Linked DNA regions of Homo sapiens: region 1 is linked to region 2. The links come from fine-mapping of genetic effects on gene expression. A gene starts in region 2. The other region holds a variant in brackets. All regions are shown on one strand. Distances are between the middles of the regions.

Region 1 (2,912 bases), 55 kb before region 2:
TTAACATGTAGGGCTGAGTGTGGTGGTTCGTGCCTGTAATCCCGACACTTTGGGAGGCCGAGGTGGGCAGATCACTTTAGGTCAGGAGTTTGAAGCCAGCCTGGCCAACATAGCAAAACCCTATCTCTACTAAAAATACAAAAATTAGCTGGGCGTGGTGGCAGGTGCCTGTAAACCCAGCTACTTGGGAGGCTAAGGCGTGAGAATTGCTTGAACCCAGGAGGCAGAGGTTGCAGTGAGCCGAGACTGTGCCACTGCACTACAGCATGGGCAACAGAGCCAGACTCTGTCTCAAAAAAAAAAAAGTTAACATGTAAAGATTTCTATTATAAATGTAAACGGTTGCAAAGGATGTAATCCCTGTCATATTTTATATATTATACCTTGCCCTGAAGATTTATCCAATTTGGTTTATAGAAATGTCTGGCATAAATCTTTTTTTTTTTTTTTCTAAGAGACAAGACTCCACTCTGTCACCCAGGCTAGAATACAATGGCACAATCAGAACTCATGGTGACCTGGAACCTCTAGGCTCAAAATGATCCTCCTGCCTCAGCCTCATGAGTAGCTGGGACTACAGGCATGCACCACCACACCTGGCTTGCCCTACAAGATTTTTTTTTTTTTTTTTTTTTTTTTTTGAGATGGAGTCTTGCTCTGTTGCCAGGCTGGAGTGCAGCAGTGGCACCATCTCAGCTCACTGCAACCACCGCCTCCCGGGTTCAAGTGATTCCCATGCCTCAGCCTCCCAAGTAGCTGGGGTTACGGGCACACACCACTACGCCTGGCTAATTTTTTGTATTTTAGTAGAGATGAGGTTTCACCATGTTAACAGGCCAAGATGGTCTCGATCTCCTGACCTCGTAATCTGCCCGCCTCGGCCTCCCAAAGTGCTGGGATTATAGGCGTGAGCCACCGCGACTGGCTGCCCTGCAAGATTTTTATACCCAGATAGTATATTTGGGGTTTGGAAGAGAGGTCACTGTGAAAAGGAGGTGGGAAAGTAGAACTTGCAGAGTGTGGTAAACCAAATTTAGGAGATGGTGCAAATGGAAATGGAAGACATGTTAACCAATCAGCTTAAAGTGACCAGTGCCCACTTGCCCCTGGGAAGCCTATGTGTACCCCTAGGGCAGGTTTTCTCAACCTCGGCACTATTGACCTTTTGGGTCAAATATTTCTTTGTTGTGAGGGCTGGTCTGTGCATTGTAGGATATTTAGCAACATCTCTGACCTCTATTTACCAGAAGCCAGTAGCATTCCTCCACTCAAGTTGTGACAACAAAAATGTCTTCAGACATTGCCAATGTCACCTGGGGGAGCAAAATTGCCCTGGGTTGAGCATCCTAGGGTACTCCAGTTTGAGGACTGTTGCCCTAGAAGATAGCAGCGTCACAGAGCTCCTCTGTTACCTGGGATGGGGGCCCACAATTGCAGTGTAGGACCCAGTTTCCCTTCTTTTGTTAGTCCACAGAAGTGGCACCTGAACCTTATTTCCCAGTATGCTGGCAGCGGCAGGAGTGGAAAGGCAGGAAGCACAGGAGTAAGGGCTGAGTGGTCCTCCTTGCAGGGGTGAGCAGAGTGGGGGCAGTGGTCTTCATC[T/C]TTCATTCTAGCCTTTGAAGCTAAGGAGAAGGTTGGAACCTTCTGTAAATATGGTTTGGCAACTTCGTCAGAGATAACCCTATGAGACCCCAAGAAATACTAAATAAGACTTGTGGAGGGCTGGGGATCTTTTAACAACAGAGAAGGGCAAGCATTAGAAAAATTCATTTTTAGTCTTAAGCCCATTTTTAAAACCCCATTCAAGTACGGTCTAGGGCAGTGCTGCTCAAAGTGTGTGTTTGTTAACTGTTTCCAGTCTCTGACTAGATAAAGACCTACTGCTAAAATACCAATCAACATACTGCTTCCTTCATTGAGACTGTCTTGCTATAAAAAAAAAAAAAAAGTCAGCTGAAATTAGTTTAGTACTTAATGACTTTAGGGCATAGTGACATCATTTATTTACAGTCTTGCTCAAGCTCCTTATCACTGCAGCAGTACACACTTGCAGTAGCTAGGACAATAAATTGAGGGTTTTTAGAGGGTCTTGAAATCAGTACTGGAAATTTCAATCTTTGTTTTAAAAAATCTAGCGACATAGAAAGATATTAGGGTGCATGCTGTTTCAAAAGAATAAGCATTATTTTAGAAAACTTTTGGTGTAAATGTGCACTATATAAACATTCATGTGTACTGTGTCACAATGTAAAAATATATTTCTAACTGTGGATATTGGTCAGAAAATTTTGAAAAGTATTGGTCTAGGGAAACAGGGAAGTACAACTGTGCTGATTTTAGGTGGGATCATAGCCCCCTATGATCCCAGATCTTTTTCAGCTATACAGCAGCAGTAGCTACTAGCAATAATTAATCTATATTCCTCAGTTTGCCCAGGTCCCCTGTGGGTGGCACCTGTACACACCTGGTTCTTACATCTTATTACCTAAGGGTGTTCTCTGGCTGAGACAGTAGGCTTAGCCCTCATGAAGGGCAGGCCGAAAGTGCCCAGGAGTTAATGCCAGGAGCAGCTTTTACTGTGAATGGGAATTGGCAGCTAAAATTCCAGCTATCTCACCCCTTTTAAAAACTTTACAATTCAAAGTTATTACACACCATTCCCTAAGAGGGTCCTCTGTGGGACTGAACCCTTGTTGTTCACAGTGGTACTCTCTTATTAATACACCATTTGTTGGCTTTCTTCCTTCTCTGTTTCAGTTTCCCATTCCCTTGCAATGGGATCATCCTCCAAATAAACTACTTCATCCAAATCTTTGCTTTTTGAAGAACCAGACTGTATTAGTCAATTTTCACACTACTGTAAAGAGATACACAAGACTAGGTTATTTATAAAGAAAAGAGGTTTAATTGAC
Region 2 (2,858 bases):
GCAAAATTGTTAGGGAACTTGTTCAAGGTCCCAAAGCCAGTAAGTGGGAGAGCCAGAGGCAGAAACGAAGTTCAGCTCTTTCCCGTACTACACCCAACAGCCAAGCTGAATGTCATCACAATGAGAATGAATGACCTCACATTCAATGGCTTTTTAAAAATGGCCTTGTAGTTTCAAAGACAAATTCAACATCGTATACTTTGTGACACTCCCTCCAGGACGACTAACGTCTTCAATGACTGCACCTCTTATTTCCATAATCATTATCTTTTTGTACTAACTGCATTATTTTTACTTGAACAAAAAGGTTGTAATTCCCGCCTCACGGTTCCGAGTCATGATACAACTGATCTCCTGTTTCCCTAGCATGCAACCTTCCGGAAACCGCTTTGTTTCCCTATTTGTCGGACACTGACTTCAGGGAGGCCCGGTCGGCCTCTTTGGTGAGCACGGTGTTGAGCTGATCACTGGTGCGCCCTTAATAACGCCGGCGGGACTCACCCCAATCCGAAACCCACCATCCCGACGTGCTTTTGAGTGGCGTTCTGCCCGTTCTTAACGCGCGAGCTACTGCACGCTATTCTCACAGCCGGGATGGGCTTCTTTAACCACGTGAAGTACTTGTATGAACTATGAAAATAAACCCTGGCTTGGCTTTTCTGAGGAAGTTCAAGCACCTAATTAACCCCTGGTGGAGAAAAAGCCACGCACTCTCACGCGGTAAGGGCAGTCTTTTTAAAAAGTTTCCATTTTTGCCCAGATACAAGCTCCCCAGTCAGTGCCGAACGCAACAGGGAAGAACAGGCGACACATCCGGCTGGCGAGCTCGGCCTCGCGGGCCCGGCAGCGCAGCGGACACTGGGAAAGAGGCCATAGGCCCCGCCCACCTGAAGCCACCGCCCACTTCAGGCTTCCAGCGGGCCTCGGACTCCACCAACCTCGGCCCCGCCCGCCTCTGGCCCGCGTTCCTTAAACCCCTCCGAGGCCTCAGTCCCCGCCCACCCGGCCCGCCCACCTCAGTCCCTGCCCACCCGGGCCCGCCCATCTCAGGCCGGCAGTCAGCCTCAGGCTCTCCGCTTTGCGTCCCGCCGCCGTGGTGGCGTCTGGGAACCGAAGGCAGGTGCCCCTCGTTCTGCCGTCCCGCCCTCTCACCTCGGGTTGTGGCTTAGGTTCAGTGCGATCCAGGGAACGAAGCGGTACTTGTAACGGCGCCATCGCTGCCACAGGCCCCGCAGCAGACGGCCAGGCATGGCTGCCCCGCGGGGCCGTGACCAGGACGGCGCGGGGAAGGCGGATCGAGGCCTCGGGCCCGCCCCGGCCCGGGAGGAGAGGGGGCCGCGCTCGGCCGCCTTCCCCTGGCTCCGCTCTCAGTGTTCCTGGCACCGCCTGACTTCTGTTGCTCTGGGGCTTCGTCCTTCCCCTTTCCTGACCTCACCTCTCTGAATGAGAGGCGCGTAGAGCTGGAAGGAGGTCCCCTTGACCACTTTTTCTTTCTCCGGTCGCTCGGGTGCTTCCGTGGGCGCACACAAGCGCTAGCCCTGGTTGCGGGCGAAGGGTCACCGGGCCTCAGGGGCGAACCCGCCCCCGAGACCGCGTCCCAGGAGCGGACCGCCTAGTTTCTCTGTCACGGCTGTCTGGCCTGCCCCTTTGTCCCGGCCGCGCTCTGTGTTCCATCCTCCGTCCACTTGAGCTCTGCCTCTTCCTCGACGTTCTCTCCCCTTCTCTCCGTGGCCCCAGAGCAGCCCGACTTCGGGAACCCGAGTTTCAGTCCTCCCCAGACAGCAGCCCTTCTTCTGCGTGAACCCGTGTTCCCAAAGTTACCAGTTTGGGCGTTTTGCGAATATTTACACGTAAAAAAACAAAGTGTCATGATTCCCTGTTTTCACTCGTTTTTCTCTTCATTGACCCAACCATTCAAAGGCAAAACTACATGGACAAATGTTTCTGAAAAACAGCTTTGTTGAGGAATGGTTGGGATACAATAAACTGCACATATTTAAAGTGAACAATTTGATAGGTTTTCGACACCACAGCCAAGATAGTAATCCAGCCCCTCCCCCAGTCCCCAAGCAACCACTGAGGTGCTTTTGTCCTTTTAATATGGTCTTCGCTTCAATTTGGAAACGTTTTGTCTAGAAGTTCTGCATCTGTGTTCGTGAGAGATATTGTTTCGTAGTTTTCTTGTAGTGTCTTAATCTGGCTTTGGTATTTAGGCTAATGTTGACTTCATAGGATGAGGTGGGAAGTAGTCCCCCATAGGTGAAATTTAAAAGGAACTTTACGACCGCTCCTCCCCAACACCCAGATGCATGCACACGCACACACATATTTAGAACAGGTTTGGACAAAGTTCAGTTTTAAGGGGGGCAAACTACAGGAATCCCTTAACCATATTCAAATCACCAAGTGTTTATTGACAGATAAATACGTTGGTATCATTTCCTCTATTCTTTGCCTGAGAGTGAGGTTGGATCCTAAACTATTGAAATTGAACGGCTCAGATCTAATAAAAACTCAGCCAAGGCCGGGCGCAGTGGCTCACGCCTGTAATCCCAGCACTTTGGGAGGCCGAGGCGGGTGGATCCCCTGAGGTCAGGAGTTCGGGACCAATCTGGCCAACATGGCGAAACCCCGTCTTTACTAAAAAAGAACAAATACAAAAATTAGCCGAGCGTTGGTGGCACGTGCCTGTAGTCCCAGCTACTCAGGAGGCTGAGGCAGAAGAATCGCTTGAACCTGAGAGACGGAGGTTGCAGGGAGCCGAGATCCGCCACTGCACTCCAGCCTGGGTGACAGAGTGAGATCCCGTCTCAAAAAAAAAAAAAATTCAGCCAATCGCCAGTAGCTGCGGGACTAAT

The links.
Region 1: its variant is fine-mapped to the expression of SETD9 in lung (TOPMed, PIP above 0.99).

The regions. Positions count from the first base shown.
Region 1 is chr5:56,963,470-56,966,381 of GRCh38, reverse strand. No RefSeq gene overlaps it. Among named protein-coding and RNA genes, the nearest start is that of MIER3, 13 kb to the right of the region's middle. The variant T/C (reference allele first, on the strand shown) is at 1,603.
Region 2 is chr5:56,908,038-56,910,895 of GRCh38, reverse strand. SETD9 (SET domain containing 9) reads right to left here and starts at 1,300. Exons shown (of 6, transcript NM_153706.4): 1 at 1,153-1,300. The coding sequence starts at 1,250. RefSeq lists enhancers at 1-639, 735-784, 1,575-1,664 and silencers at 825-1,034, 1,215-1,424.